Homo sapiens: one gene and its partners. The protein of the gene in region 1 interacts with the protein of each later gene in a biochemical or structural test. Each region holds a gene or a part of one and is shown on either strand. Other genes may lie near its edges.

The links.
Region 2: the proteins of CLTA (region 1) and CALY form a complex in vitro, tested with the Homo sapiens proteins (one study listed by IntAct).
Region 3: the proteins of CLTA (region 1) and HIP1R form a complex in vitro, tested with the Homo sapiens proteins (one study listed by BioGRID).

The regions. Positions count from the first base shown.
Region 1 is NC_000009.12:36,207,362-36,212,908, forward strand, and holds the end of CLTA (clathrin light chain A), read left to right. Parts: exon of another isoform or gene 1-1,193; intron 1,194-1,905; coding exon of another isoform or gene 1,906-1,959; intron 1,960-3,263; coding exon of another isoform or gene 3,264-3,299; intron 3,300-4,241; coding exon 4,242-4,413; 3' UTR 4,414-4,698; downstream 4,699-5,547. UniProt on the Homo sapiens protein: Clathrin is the major protein of the polyhedral coat of coated pits and vesicles.
Region 2 is NC_000010.11:133,322,879-133,327,111, reverse strand, and holds the end of CALY (neuron-specific vesicular protein calcyon), read left to right. Parts: intron 1-120; coding exon 121-234; intron 235-831; exon of another isoform or gene 832-877; coding exon of another isoform or gene 878-991; coding exon 992-1,285; 3' UTR 1,286-1,313; intron 1,314-1,545; 3' UTR 1,546-3,040; downstream 3,041-4,233. UniProt on the Homo sapiens protein: Interacts with clathrin light chain A and stimulates clathrin self-assembly and clathrin-mediated endocytosis.
Region 3 is NC_000012.12:122,859,230-122,864,142, forward strand, and holds the end of HIP1R (huntingtin-interacting protein 1-related protein), read left to right. Parts: intron 1-196; coding exon 197-307; intron 308-542; coding exon 543-601; intron 602-817; coding exon 818-848; intron 849-918; coding exon 919-981; intron 982-1,193; coding exon 1,194-1,294; intron 1,295-1,449; coding exon 1,450-1,555; intron 1,556-1,686; coding exon 1,687-1,810; intron 1,811-1,901; coding exon 1,902-1,963; intron 1,964-2,078; coding exon 2,079-2,285; intron 2,286-2,476; coding exon 2,477-2,524; 3' UTR 2,525-3,732; downstream 3,733-4,913. UniProt on the Homo sapiens protein: Component of clathrin-coated pits and vesicles, that may link the endocytic machinery to the actin cytoskeleton. Binds 3-phosphoinositides (via ENTH domain).

The DNA of each region.
Region 1 (5,547 bases):
TCCCCTATTACAGGTAGCACTTGTGCTTGTCAGCTCTTTCAAGGCTTGAGAAGGTTTGGGGAACCCACAGTTCTCAGAGATGGCAAACATTTTTTTCTGTGCCCACTTTGAGGCTGTTTATGGAATGAAGTTCTGCATTGTATTCGTGCCTCCAGAGCTTGTCCTAGGTCAGGTATTCCTCTTCCCTCCCCTCTCCTAAGCCTCCCTGAGCCCCTTCCTGCCTTGGCTGAGGATTGCTACTTTCAAGTGAAGGACAAATAAGGGGAGGGCCACCTGTGTGTGTGTCTGATTTTCTGTTTGTTCTGGGCCTGCAACCTTGACAGGGGATGTGCTTGTCACTGAGGAGCTCTTTGGTCTTGGGCTAGCTGCAAAGGAGCAAGAGCCTGACATTCAAACTTTTGTTGTCTTAGTGATGATTTGACAGGAGTCATGAAACCTCTACTCTTCTTGTGGAGGGAAACCCAAGTTGAAATCGATCAGGTTTAGTCCTTTGTGTAAACTAAAAGGGTTATGGGTTTATAAGCCAGCCTGCCTTGCCTTTTCCTCCCACTCATTCTGCCCACAAACAACTCTGTTTTCCTGCTGAGTCACTTTAAGTTATAATCAGCCTGCTCTTTTTGCTTTCTTTAAATTTCCACAAAACACCTCCTGTGTATAAAACAAAATGGGAAAGAAGGAAGGGCATGTGTGAGCTTAAAAATTAACTTAAAATTACTAGAATTTGCCTTCAAATAAGTATGTGAGGTTAGCTTAATGACCAGGCATGATTATCCTTGAAAAATGTCTTTCCCCTTGCCCACCCCAAATCGACTTGACAAAGGACAGGGTAAGACTCCATGAGGGAGGTTCCATGTCCAGCCACAGTGGAGAAGAGTGGGCTGGCAGAGCCCAGGGAGTCAGTCCAGGACAACAGAGTCAAAGCCAGCCTGGCCCCTGCTGTCAAAATTTATCCACCCAGTCTGCCCCCTCCTTCCTGTCTGAGAGCCCTGCCATGTTGAGAGTTAAGAAGGGATGAAGTTCTGGATTCTGGGCTGCACCTTATCAAAGCCAATTGAGTCTGGTGTAAAAATATTCAGAAACTGTACCCGCTTCTTGAGTAGAGAGAGAGCCATATTCAGGAACAACAGAAGCCAGGGCCAGGATCCTAGTCCAGTGTTCTTCCCACCAGACCACTCACCTCCAGCCGTTTTTTCCTGTAAGGTTGAGATTTTAAAATGACGATATGTGTTCCCAGGATTCTGGAAGTGTATCCCACCCAGACAGTGTGGGGAAGCAGTAGTTAGATAATCCAAGATAAAACTGGCTTTGGGTCCTAGCGCATCTGGTGTCTGGCAGCATTCCTGCCCAGTGCATTAACTGAAACAGGAAGGTGGCGTGGCTTTCTGGGCACATACAGCAGGGAAGAAGCATGACTATACAGTAGAAAGAGCCCTGGACTTAGGGCCAGGCTGCCTTGGTTGTGAGTCCTGAATGCTGCCACTGTGGTGTAGCTGAGCAAGTTGTTCATCTCTAAGCCTCAGTTACCTCATCTGTACAGTGGGGGTGAGAACAGTCAGGGTCATAGGTTGTTAACAGTTAAGGATTGAATCAACATAATGTATGTGAAAGGGCTTAGTCCATGATTGGGTGCTTAATAAATGCCCGTGTTGCTGGGGTGAGCCAAAGGGATGAAGTTGGCAGTGCTTGCTCTGTCGTGGAGCAGTCCCCACGTGGGAAGGCCAGCGGGAAACCAGGCCTGCTGAAGTCTCCAGCGCTGGAAGCCTCACGGGGGTTAGGAAGGAGCCTTGGGAGCAGCTCCTCAGAGCACAGTTGTACCTCAATTGTGGATTTTAGATGTTTCTGCTTCTCAATGTTCTCTCTTTTTTCCTGCCTGCTTGCCTGCCTTTTGGACCTCTTGCTGTCTAGGGTGGCAGATGAAGCTTTCTACAAACAACCCTTCGCTGACGTGATTGGTTATGTGTATGTTGCAAAACTAATTCCTTTTTCTACATCTGATTCTTTCTACTTTTGTTTAGAGTTAATGCTCCTTTTATGTCACAAGTTGCTTTGCTTTTTAAATTATTTCAAATTGGCACTTTGGGGGCTGCCTAAGAATTGATAAGCGGGGTATGATCTGTTGATGAATCTTCCAGATTTGTGACTCCCTGCATCCTCTGATGGCCATTTTTCATATTTGGGGTTTTGGAGGGAAGAAAGCTAACTCGCTTTCAAAATGTGTCATTTGCGATCTTATCTGGGAACGGTTTGAGGCTCGGGGGAACTCTGCTCTCTTGCTCTTGGCTGCCATCACTGCTGCCATGCCCTGTTGCCTGCCTGCCTCAGGTGGGAAGGAGGTTTCCCCACCTGGGAGCAGGTGGCAGTCCCAGGAGGTTAGGAGCCAGTGAGCAGCAGCACCTTGCATTGCCAAAATCAGAGCTGTGGGGCAGCATTTTCCATACTTGGTTCATTCAAACAATGTGGGGTCGTTTGCCTCTCCCTCAGGCAGAAGAGTCCAGAGCAGAGGGGGTTGTCTCCAGTGGGTGTCTATAATTGTTCCTCTGTGGTCTTGCATGTCAGAAATTGCTATTTAGTGGTCAGCTTCTGATGTCCTGTCTCCTAGCACAGGGAAGCCCCCAGCTTTGAGATCAGGATAGTCAAAGTGTCTTGATACGGGCCACTTGGGCTTCTCCCCCTGACCCCCCCAAAAGAAACCTGCATCTTCTCTGGAGAAGGTGTTTTTCTTATTCTTTTTTTTTTCTTTTTTTCTTTTTTCTTTTTTTTAAGGATTTCTTTTATCAAAGCAGTATTGCTGAAGAGTTGGAAACAGTTCTCATTGTCTCCTCCTTAAAAATTAGGGCTGGCTTTACATGAGAAGTAAGGGTGGAATGGAAGAGGAGAGGAACCTGTGGAAGGTGGGCGATGAGCTCAGGTCTGTAGAGCCTCTCAGGGCCTATGACCTTGAGATGTTCATCCCCTTAGAAGATAGAACTGGGTTTCCTGGGCCCCCAGATGCATTTGCAGTGAGACTTGTGAAATGCTGGACTTACAGGTGGTGTTTGATTTGATTTCTGCACATTCTCTCTGGAGTAGAAATGGAGACTGGAAAGGTCGAGTCTGGTTTTGCTGGGCAGCTGGGTGGCCAGCAAAGCCAGCTGCACGTCCCCAAGCACAGATAGAGTGGCAAGGGCATGTCCAGCTTACTGACCATCTGCATTGAGCTCATTCTCATTTTCTATATCTGACTTAAAGTTTCTCTCGTTTCTTTTCTTCTCTTCACCTTTAAGCACAAACATAAACCATCCTTGCTACAGCCTAGAACAGTTAAGTAAACCTTTCTCACTGCCCCTAACTGTGTGTGCCATGAAGTCGCAGTGTTGTAGTGGCTCTGGGCTTCAGCGGTGTTTGCCACGGCCATCCCTGTGATAGTGCCACCCCTCCGTCCCCACAGACCAGTCATCTCCATTGCTTTTGCTTTGCCCGTGATGCTTGTTGGAGTAGATGAATATAGTGTGTCTTAGCGCTGTCCTTTCCGGCTGTAGCTCCCACCAGTTAATTCCGAACTGGGGGTGGGCTGACCTTGATGTGAAAGAATGTTGGAGCAGCATCCTGCCAAAAAGCAACTCACGTTGGCTCTCCTGCCAGTGTGCCCTGAGTGGCCCCAAGGCACCTGGCTGGAGGGAAAATGGCAAACTTTTGGCTGAACTGGAGAATGTCCTAACAAACCCCCTTCCAGAATGGCTTTAGTCTCTAGTGCTTGCTAGCATGGGAGCTTTGTCTTGAATTCCTTTTGATCTGCCCCGTTTCTCTCCAGCCTTAGGAATAAATCTAGAGGCTATTGTGCAATGATCTGTGGGCTTTTTAGAAGTCTCTAAATTTCCTTGAAATTCAGTACAGCCCAGCATAAACTACTCAAGTTCTTGATCAGCCTGCTGCTTTGTTCTTATTAATAAAAGCAGTGTGTAGCTGGCTAAGGACTTGTTTTATTAATGCTCCACAGGAGCAGAGACAGACAGAGAGACATAGTGAGCCTTGAACCAAACACCTGTATTCCAACATTTTACACAGCGGTCTGGGCACCCTGTGCCTAGGAGAGCCAGCTACGTGTCTACCTGAGTCTGACCTGGGCCAGGGGCTGTTATCTTGGGAAAGCCAGAATGTCATTAAGAAAGGGACAAATAGGCAGTTGCTTGTGTAGCAAGGCAGCCACCAGGTTGCTCAAAGGGGGTTCTGCATAAACCAACATATTTTGTTGTTGCTTCCAGGGCAGCAGAAGAAGCCTTTGTAAATGACATTGACGAGTCGTCCCCAGGCACTGAGTGGGAACGGGTGGCCCGGCTGTGTGACTTTAACCCCAAGTCTAGCAAGCAGGCCAAAGATGTCTCCCGCATGCGCTCAGTCCTCATCTCCCTCAAGCAGGCCCCGCTGGTGCACTGAAGAGCCACCCTGTGGAAACACTACATCTGCAATATCTTAATCCTACTCAGTGAAGCTCTTCACAGTCATTGGATTAATTATGTTGAGTTCTTTTGGACCAAACCTTTTTGTCTTTAGAGTTGTTCATTGTTTGTGATTGCATGTTTCCTTCCTTCAACTGTGTTCTCCCTGGCATTCAGAGAGGAGGGAGAGGAGGAAGAGGAAGGGGAGGGAAGCTTCCCAAGAGTAGCCTCAACCTGTGCTTCTGTGCATTATTCTGAGAATAAATTTCTGTTTCAAACTGTATTATGTGAAGCTTCTTTATTGACCTCAAGATGTGTTGTAGTTTGGAGTGAGGTTGGAAGGAATTTCCAGGAGGAATTTCCTTGAAATTTCTAGGGCTGAGGAGGCACAGCCACTGGGCACACAGCCCTGCCTTGAACTAAGATAGCACCGGGATCTAGAGTGGGATCCTGTGGACATTTTCATTTGAGAAGGGAGTTTAGTGGCTGAAGGTTAACCCCCTCATTATCTACCTAAGACACAGCTGTGAATCCTCTCACCAACCTAGTCGTTTTCTCCCAGATGGGCTCTTGCTTGCCAGTGTCCCTCAGTTTAGGGTCTTGGATAGTATATTTCGGCAGGAGTCTGTGGGGCACGTAGACTCTAGTAAGACCTTGACTCCTTTGGATCCGGCCAGTAAGCCTGAGTCAGGACGGCATTCATGTGTGGCTAGCCCCATTACTGTTGAGTCCTGTAGCACATGTTGGGTTCTGTGCCATCCCAAGCACTTGGTTCATATTTCTCTTGTAAAATCCTTCATCTAGACCTGTGCTGTCCAGTGCAGTATTCACCAGGCCCATGTGGCTATTTAAATGAATTTAAAATACATTTCTAGTCCTAGTCACAATTCATGTGCTCAGTAGCCATATGTGGTTAGGTGGCACTCGGATAGCACAGGTTATAGAACATGTCCATGGTCGCAGAAAGCTGCACTGGACCATGCTGATCTACCACAGGTGTTTCCAGGAGCCCGTGCTTTGTTCAGACACCAGTAAGTTCATTATCTGTCTTCAGAACCTGGCATAGTACCTGGCTCGTTTTAGGTGATGTTCCAAGCAATTATTAAAGCTATATTTCAGTAATCTGCTTATA
Region 2 (4,233 bases), on another chromosome or scaffold:
GGGGTGGGGCATCAAGACTGGAGGGCGGGGATGGTCCTGTGCCAGCCCAGCCCCTGAGGAGCTCCCCACAAAGACCGCCCCTGCCTGGCGTGGCTGAGCCCCTCTCTGCCCTCCTGCCAGCTGCCCACCGCACGGATGATCGCCTTCGCCATGGCGCTACTGGGCTGCGTGCTGATCATGTACAAGGCCATCTGGTACGACCAGTTCACCTGCCCCGACGGCTTCCTGCTGCGGGTAAGGGGGCCAGGGCTCTGGTGGGGGGTGTAGAGCCGCCCCTCCTCCCGTAGCCTCCAGGCAGGGGGTGGCAGGGGTGTCTCCTGCTGCTGGGGGAACGTGGTCTCCAAAGCCATGTTCCTGTTACTTCTCTAGAACATGAGATCGTATCTTTTGAAAATTTAAAAGAAAAGATGAGTTAGTGATGGGTTTCTCTTCTTGTAATTTAAAAAATAAGTAAAAAGATGAGGCAGAAAAGGTCACCCTGCAGCCACCTCTCTAGGGGTCATCTGTCCTCCTGAGTGACTTGTGTGAGGTTTTATTTTTATATAACATGATATTAATGCTCCCCACCTATTTGGCAGATATTTTCTTCCATCCTTTTTTTTTTTAAATCTCTTTGTCAATAATGGTTATAGCTTTTAGTGTGTTTTTAGAAAGCCTTTTATTTATCAGAAGTAAAATCTGCTCCTTTTCTCCTTAACTCCATGGTTTATGCTCTGGAGCGCGCTCCGCAGAGTCCTTGCTGCGCTGGGCAGGTCCACTGGTGTCTGCGCCCCTCTCCCTGGGTGGCCCCTCCCCTTACAACGCGCGACCTCCTGCTCCATGCCCCTCCAGGGCCCTGAGTTCTGAACTGGAGGCTGATCTTCGGTGTCCTGAAGCCATGGCTCCATTACAAACTGTCCGCAGTGTCCCCAACCGCAGAAGCGGGAGGGCCTGGGCCCGGGGCGCACAGGAGGGCTCAGCCCCACCGACCCTGACCCGGCCCCTCCCGCAGCACAAGATCTGCACGCCGCTGACCCTGGAGATGTACTACACGGAGATGGACCCCGAGCGCCACCGCAGCATCCTGGCGGCCATCGGGGCCTACCCGCTGAGCCGCAAGCACGGCACGGAGACGCCGGCGGCCTGGGGGGACGGCTACCGCGCAGCCAAGGAGGAGCGCAAGGGGCCCACCCAGGCTGGGGCGGCGGCGGCGGCCACCGAACCCCCCGGGAAGCCGTCGGCCAAGGCGGAGAAGGAGGCGGCGCGGAAGGCGGCCGGGAGCGCGGCGCCCCCGCCCGCGCAGTGACGTCTCCAGCCCCGCAGCCCGGCCCGGGGTAGGTGCGCGCCGCGGGGCTCCGGCCGGCTCTGCCCAGGTCTCTTCCTGGCCTCCCGCCACCGCTTCTGAGCCAAAGACCCCCGCCACCCTTCCCTTCCTCTTCCCTCCGACCCGGCCCGCCAGAACCTCGGGGTTGGGGGTTGCGAATCCGAGCCCGCCGGGTGACGCGGGGTCCGCGGGGAGCCCCTGGCCGCGTCGCCGCTCTCAACCCTCGGGCTCTGTCTCCGCAGCGTCCTCCGCCAGCTCCTGTGACCAGCGCGTCTCCCGATGCTCTCCGCCGTGTTCGTGTCCCCAGGCGCCCTCGCTGCAGCCCCGCCCCCGTGGGTCTCTGACTCTGTCGCTTTTCTCTAAGTAAAGATTTCACGTCCACCGGAGGCTTCCATCTCTCCTGCGCGTCCTCTGCCGGGCTGGCCTTTCTCCCGCCCCCCACCCCGCCAGTTGTGAGTGAGGCCGGCATTGTGCTCCCCCCAGGGACCCCCGAAGGACCCAGGAGAGACCCCGTGGGGGGCAGCTCCCAGGAAGCCGTGGTGCGCCCAGGCGGAGCACGCGCATCCTCGCGCTGCGTGGTCCGGGCCTTGTCCAAGCCCCACCGGGATGTGCCTTAATGGCGGGGCTCCGGCCCACCCAGGGGAGCCTCGGGTCCATCCCTATCCGCTGCCCAGCCCCTTGTCCTGCTGGTTCCCCGACCCCCCGCCCCCATCTACCTGGTGCTGGGCCTGGGCCCCGGGCGTTCCCCCTCTGACAGGAGTGTCTGCCTCCCGGGGGACCCCTGGTTCTGGGCGGCACCCATGAGCAGCTCCTGCCTCCTAGATGTGTGGCCCACAGGCATAAATGACCAAGTGAAGAAAGGAGTGAATGGGGGCGTCTGAGTGGGGAGTGGGGCCTGATGAGGGGTGAGCTCTGGTTCCTGGGGGCTGGGGTCTCCCGTGTCCCTGGAGCCAGATGAAAGATGGTGAGGCTGAAACGCCAGGGGAGCCTGGAGCTGCCATGAGTCTCCCCCAGCATCCCCACCCCAGCCCCAGCATCCCCACCCCAGCCCCAGCATCCCCACCCCAGCCCCAGCCAACTCCCGGCACTGAACACTACAGGGAATGGACTTCCGGCAGATCTCACCCACCACCTGCACCACCCCAGCCAGCAGCAGCTCTGCAGCCCCGCCCACCCCAGCCAGCAGCAGCTCTGCAGCCCCGCCCACCCCAGCCAGCAGCAGCTCTGCAGCCCCGCCCACCCCAGCCAATTGCAGCACTGCAGCCCCGCCCACCCCAGCCAATTGCAGCACTGCAGCCCCGCCCACCCCAGCCAGCAGCGGCTCTGCAGCCCCGCCCACCCCAGCCCCCGACCATTGGTGGATGGAAGCCCCCCACCATTGGCTCCCAGGCTTGCTGGCTAGGTGCGGGTCTAGGCAGCTTCCCAGCTCAGTGGGACTGGCCTGCTTTGGAACAGCGGCAGTGCCCAGGAAGCCTGTGAACTGGGCCTGCCAGGGAAGCCATGGTGAGCTGGAAGCCAGCCAGGTGGGGTCAGGGAAGGCAGGGCCATGCACACCACACCCTTCACTGCTGGGCTTCTAAGGGCATTGGCCAGATGAACAAGCACACGCAGAACTGAATTGGCCCTGATGGCCTGCAAGGGAGGGGGGCCCGGGGCCTGGGGCGTCAGCTGGGATATATGGGGGCAGGGAGTCTCTGCATGGCCGATGTTTGAATTAAAATACAGCTTTCCCCTGTATTTTATTATTATTATTATTATTATTATTATTATTATTATTATTATTATTTTGAGAGGGAGTCTAGCTCTGTCGCCCGGGCTGGAGCGCAGTGGCGCGGTCTCAGGTCACTGCAAGCTCCGCCTCCCGGGTTCCCACCATTCTCCTGCCTCAGCTTCCTGAGTATCTGGGACTACAGGCGCCCGCCACTACGCCCAGCTAATTTTTTGTATTTTTAGTAGAGACGGGGTTTCACTGCGTTAGCAAGGATGATCTCAATCTCCTGATCTCGTGATCCGCCCGCGTCGGCCTCCCAAAGTGCTGGGATTACAGATGTGAGCCACCGCGCCCGGCCTTATTATTATTATTTTTTTGAGATGGAGTCTCGCTCTGTCACCCAGGCTGGAGTGCAGTGGCACGGTCTCGGCTCACTGCAAGCTCCGCCTCCCGAGTTCACACCATTCTCCTGCCTCAGCCTCCTGAGTAGCTGGGACTACAGGCGCCCGCCATCGCGCCCAGCTAAGTTTTTGTATTTTTAGTAGAGATGGGGTTTCACCATGATAGCCAGGATGGTCTCAATCTCCTGACTTCATGATCCATCCACGTCAGCCTCCCAAAGTACTGGGATTACAGGCGTGAGCCACCACGCCCAGTCTGTATTTTTTTTTTTAACATTTCGAGATAATTTCAAATTTGGAGAACAACTGTGATCATGTAAAGAACTCCCATGCACCCTTTACTGAGATTGCCCAGTGGCTGATGCCCTAATCCCTTTAGTGTTGCTGTAAAAAAAAGGAGGTTTATTTGGCTCACAGTTCTGGAGGCTGTACAAGAAGCACAGCATCAGCATCTGCTTTTGGTGGGGCCTCAGGCTGTGTCCACGTATGCTGGATGGGGAAGCAGGCCTGGTGTGCAGAGACCACAGGGCCAGAGAGGAAGCAGGAGAAGGATGGAGGGAGGTGCTAGGTTCTTTTTCTTTTTTTGAGACAGGGTATGCTCTGTTGCCCAGGCTGGAGTGCAGTGGCACAATCACAGCTTGCTGCAGCCTCCACCTCTTGGGCTCAAGTGATCCTCCCATCTCAGCCTCCTGAGTAGCTGGGGTTACAGACATTGACCATATCATCTCTTTTGTAGAGACAGGGTTTTGAAACGTTGCCCAGGCTGGTCTTGAACTCAAGTGATCCACCTGCCTTGGCCTCCCAAAGTGCTGGGATGA
Region 3 (4,913 bases), on another chromosome or scaffold:
TTGGGCCTGCCTCTGACCTCTGCACCCACCTCTGGGTTGGCTGAACAGGTGTTTGTGCGTGGAGCCTGCAGCCTCAGGACACAGGGTGGGGACCATGCACCCTCCTCGATCCCTGTGGTCCCCAACCTCTTTCCCAGGCTGCCCGTGGGACGGGGGGGGACGGAGGCTACCCCTGTCTGACTCCCATCCTCACCAGGAACTGAAACCCAAGAGCCTAGATGTGCGGCAGGAGGAGCTGGGGGCCGTGGTCGACAAGGAGATGGCGGCCACATCCGCAGCCATTGAAGATGCTGTGCGGAGGATTGAGGTGAGCACGGGATCTGGGGACTCCCCTCATTCCTGTGGAGCTTTGGGGGCCGGAGGCCCCAACTGGGCTGGGTACAGGCTGCACCCACTCCTGCTCTCAGCCTCCAGACAGAGGACAGATGGCGTTTTCCAGGGGCCTGTGAGGTCAGAGCTGAGAGGGCAGGAGGCAGCCCTGGCTTTCCCAGGACCACGGTCCCCTCCTCCCAGCCAGCTCACGGCTCTGTTCTTGGGTGCAGGACATGATGAACCAGGCACGCCACGCCAGCTCGGGGGTGAAGCTGGAGGTGAACGAGAGGTGAGCCCCCCTTCTGTCCCCCCAGGCCCAGCCGAGGTGGGCTCCCCGTGGCCCCTAAGGTTCTGCCCCCAACTGTTCTGCTCACGGGAAAGGAAGGCCTGGCTCAGAGCAGACACTCCCTCCCCACCTGCTGAGCCCTGATGTGGCCAGGCCCGCCATGGCGTCGTGTGGGCTGCTCTGCAGAGCGGCAGCTAAGTCTCTCCTTCTCTCCCCCAGGATCCTCAACTCCTGCACAGACCTGATGAAGGTGAGGGGCTGTGACCCGGGGGGGTCTGCACCTGGAGGGCCACCAGTCATTGCTGTCTTGGTCTCGGCAGGCTATCCGGCTCCTGGTGACGACATCCACTAGCCTGCAGAAGGAGATCGTGGAGAGCGGCAGGGTGAGGGGCCGGCGGCAGCAGGGCACAGTCCACAAGGAGCCTGACCCCCAGCCTAGGCCACCCTGGGCATGAGACCCTCCACCCCCTACCACAGGGAGGCCTCAGGGATGCGCCCTATGGCCAGAGTGAGGGGGAGAGGGCCCTTGAGGGCCACTTTCCACCTTTGGTGTCCTTGACTGGCATGTCCTGCCCTGTTCTCCCGTCGCCACTAGGGGGCAGCCACGCAGCAGGAATTTTACGCCAAGAACTCGCGCTGGACCGAAGGCCTCATCTCGGCCTCCAAGGCTGTGGGCTGGGGAGCCACACAGCTGGTGTAGGTTGCCCTGGGTGGGGGGGGGCAGGGGGCTGCTTCCTGCCAGTTGGAGCAGTTTGGGGTTCAACAGGGTGCAGGGAGTAGAGGGGGTGTGGAGTGGTGCCAGCCGTCCGTGGGGTCAGAGACCCTGGCCCTGACTGGCCCTTGACCCGCAGGGAGGCAGCTGACAAGGTGGTGCTTCACACGGGCAAGTATGAGGAGCTCATCGTCTGCTCCCACGAGATCGCAGCCAGCACGGCCCAGCTGGTGGCGGCCTCCAAGGTGAGCTTGCACGCCGACAGCAGCACACTGGGCTCTGGGCCCAGCTTGGCCTGGGCTGTGGCTGCCAAGCCCAGGCCTGCTGCTGCCCTGAGCTGGGAGACCTGGGCCCACCCTGACCTCTCGCCCCTCAGGTGAAGGCCAACAAGCACAGCCCCCACCTGAGCCGCCTGCAGGAATGTTCTCGCACAGTCAATGAGAGGGCTGCCAATGTGGTGGCCTCCACCAAGTCAGGCCAGGAGCAGATTGAGGACAGAGGTGAGTGCCAGATGCCAACGGGGGCTGCTGGCTCCCGAGGCTGAATGGGGGTGGGTGCCCAGATGTTCACCCCCTTGTCCTCCGGCCACAGACACCATGGATTTCTCCGGCCTGTCCCTCATCAAGCTGAAGAAGCAGGAGATGGAGACCCAGGTAGGCGCCCATGGCTGCCCCGTGACCTCTGAGCTCATCCCTCGGGCGAAGCCTGGACCCAGGAGAGAGCTCCCTGGGGAGGCTGGGCTGGGCTGAGCAGGCCGTGTGGCTACAGGTGCGTGTCCTGGAGCTGGAGAAGACGCTGGAGGCTGAACGCATGCGGCTGGGGGAGTTGCGGAAGCAACACTACGTGCTGGCTGGGGCATCAGGCAGCCCTGGAGAGGAGGTGGCCATCCGGCCCAGCACTGCCCCCCGAAGTGTAACCACCAAGAAACCACCCCTGGCCCAGAAGCCCAGCGTGGCCCCCAGACAGGACCACCAGGTGCCGTCTGCACTGGGATGGGGGAGTTCCTGGACGGGGGTGCTGTCCCCAGCCCTAGAGGGGCACATGGTGCACGTCCCTGGGGAAGTCAGGGACCACTGACAACATGCAGGGAGGAGCTTGCTCAAGGGAGAGGTGGGGCCCCAGGTGCCTGGCTGTGACCACTGACCCCCCACCTTTAACCCCTGCAGCTTGACAAAAAGGATGGCATCTACCCAGCTCAACTCGTGAACTACTAGGCCCCCCAGGGGTCCAGCAGGGTGGCTGGTGACAGGCCTGGGCCTCTGCAACTGCCCTGACAGGACCGAGAGGCCTTGCCCCTCCACCTGGTGCCCAAGCCTCCCGCCCCACCGTCTGGATCAATGTCCTCAAGGCCCCTGGCCCTTACTGAGCCTGCAGGGTCCTGGGCCATGTGGGTGGTGCTTCTGGATGTGAGTCTCTTATTTATCTGCAGAAGGAACTTTGGGGTGCAGCCAGGACCCGGTAGGCCTGAGCCTCAACTCTTCAGAAAATAGTGTTTTTAATATTCCTCTTCAGAAAATAGTGTTTTTAATATTCCGAGCTAGAGCTCTTCTTCCTACGTTTGTAGTCAGCACACTGGGAAACCGGGCCAGCGTGGGGCTCCCTGCCTTCTGGACTCCTGAAGGTCGTGGATGGATGGAAGGCACACAGCCCGTGCCGGCTGATGGGACGAGGGTCAGGCATCCTGTCTGTGGCCTTCTGGGGCACCGATTCTACCAGGCCCTCCAGCTGCGTGGTCTCCGCAGACCAGGCTCTGTGTGGGCTAGAGGAATGTCGCCCATTACTCCTCAGGCCTGGCCCTCGGGCCTCCGTGATGGGAGCCCCCCAGGAGGGGTCAGATGCTGGAAGGGGCCGCTTTCTGGGGAGTGAGGTGAGACATAGCGGCCCGGGCGCTGCCTTCACTCCTGGAGTGAGTTTCCATTTCCAGCTGGAATCTGCAGCCACCCCCATTTCCTGTTTTCCATTCCCCCGTTCTGGCCGCGCCCCACTGCCCACCTGAAGGGGTGGTTTCCAGCCCTCCGGAGAGTGGGCTTGGCCCTAGGCCCTCCAGCTCAGCCAGAAAAAGCCCAGAAACCCAGGTGCTGGACCAGGGCCCTCAGGGAGGGGACCCTGCGGCTAGAGTGGGCTAGGCCCTGGCTTTGCCCGTCAGATTTGAACGAATGTGTGTCCCTTGAGCCCAAGGAGAGCGGCAGGAGGGGTGGGACCAGGCTGGGAGGACAGAGCCAGCAGCTGCCATGCCCTCCTGCTCCCCCCACCCCAGCCCTAGCCCTTTAGCCTTTCACCCTGTGCTCTGGAAAGGCTACCAAATACTGGCCAAGGTCAGGAGGAGCAAAAATGAGCCAGCACCAGCGCCTTGGCTTTGTGTTAGCATTTCCTCCTGAAGTGTTCTGTTGGCAATAAAATGCACTTTGACTGTTTGTTGTCACTGATGCCCCAGAGGGAGGGGCTGTGCCTGGCTCTTCATTCCTCCAGGGACACGTGTTCCCTTGTCGGCCCTGGCCAGGTGCTGGGGCGGGGACCTATTCATGTCTGCATTTAATGCTAGAGTACTTGGGACTGCAGAAAAGCTCAGCAGGGCTGTCACTGGCTGTGTGTGTGTCCGCCTTCCATCTCTCTCTCGGGGGATTTATGGGCCTCAGGGCCCTCCTTTTACACAGGAGGCCAAGAGCCAGCTGCCTCCACAGAGGCCACTTGCACTCCCAGCCTCAATGCCCACAGCTTCCCTGGGGCTCCTAGCAGTTGCTGACCCCCTCAGTGTGTCTGAGACCATGCCTGACTGACAGTTGCTAAGCTAAGGTGGGGACCCTGACTCCCGGCTGGCTTGGACTTGAGCCATGGCCACACACAGCCTTTGCACTTACCGGAAACCTGGAAAGGTGTTCAGTCCCTGGGTGTGTGGCAGCCTCACAAGCACCCACTTTACCCAGGAGCACCATGCCAGAGGGAAGGCTGAGGTGGGGGAGCTCACCCTGTCCTACCCCCTGCCAAGATCACTGGCATTTATAGAGAAACAGGACAGGGTGGGTCAGGGGAGAGAAAAGGCCCCTTGGCTGGCTCCTGTATGGCCTCAGACAAGCCTTCCACCTGTGCTCACGTCTCCTGGAGGATGAAGTGGGGCCTCAGCTAAGGCTGCGTAGCCGGGGTGCTTGTGCCGGGTGGTTAGGGTGAAAGGGCCTTGCAAACTGACCACAAGGGCTAAGACAGACCCTGTGCCTGGCTCTTGTTTGTTTACAAGGCAAGATGGCTTCAGAAACACTAACGGAACTGATTCTCCACCAGATACAAATGAAAATCCACAGGCATTGACAACGCTTAACTGATCATTCTTGAGTCCTCAATGACCAAACTTTTTTTTGAGATGGAGTCTTGCTGTCACCTAGGTGGCAATACAGTGGCGTGCCTTGGCTCACTACAACCTCCTCCCGGGTTCAAGAAATTCTGCCTCAGCCTCCCGAGCAGCTGGGATTACAGGCATGCACCACCATGCCTGGCTAATTTTTGTATTTTTAGTAGAGATGGGGGCTTTGCCATGTTGGCCAGGCTGGTCTCGAACTCCTGATCTCAAGTGATCCGCCCCCCCCCCCCCCCCCCCCCCACCTCAGCCTC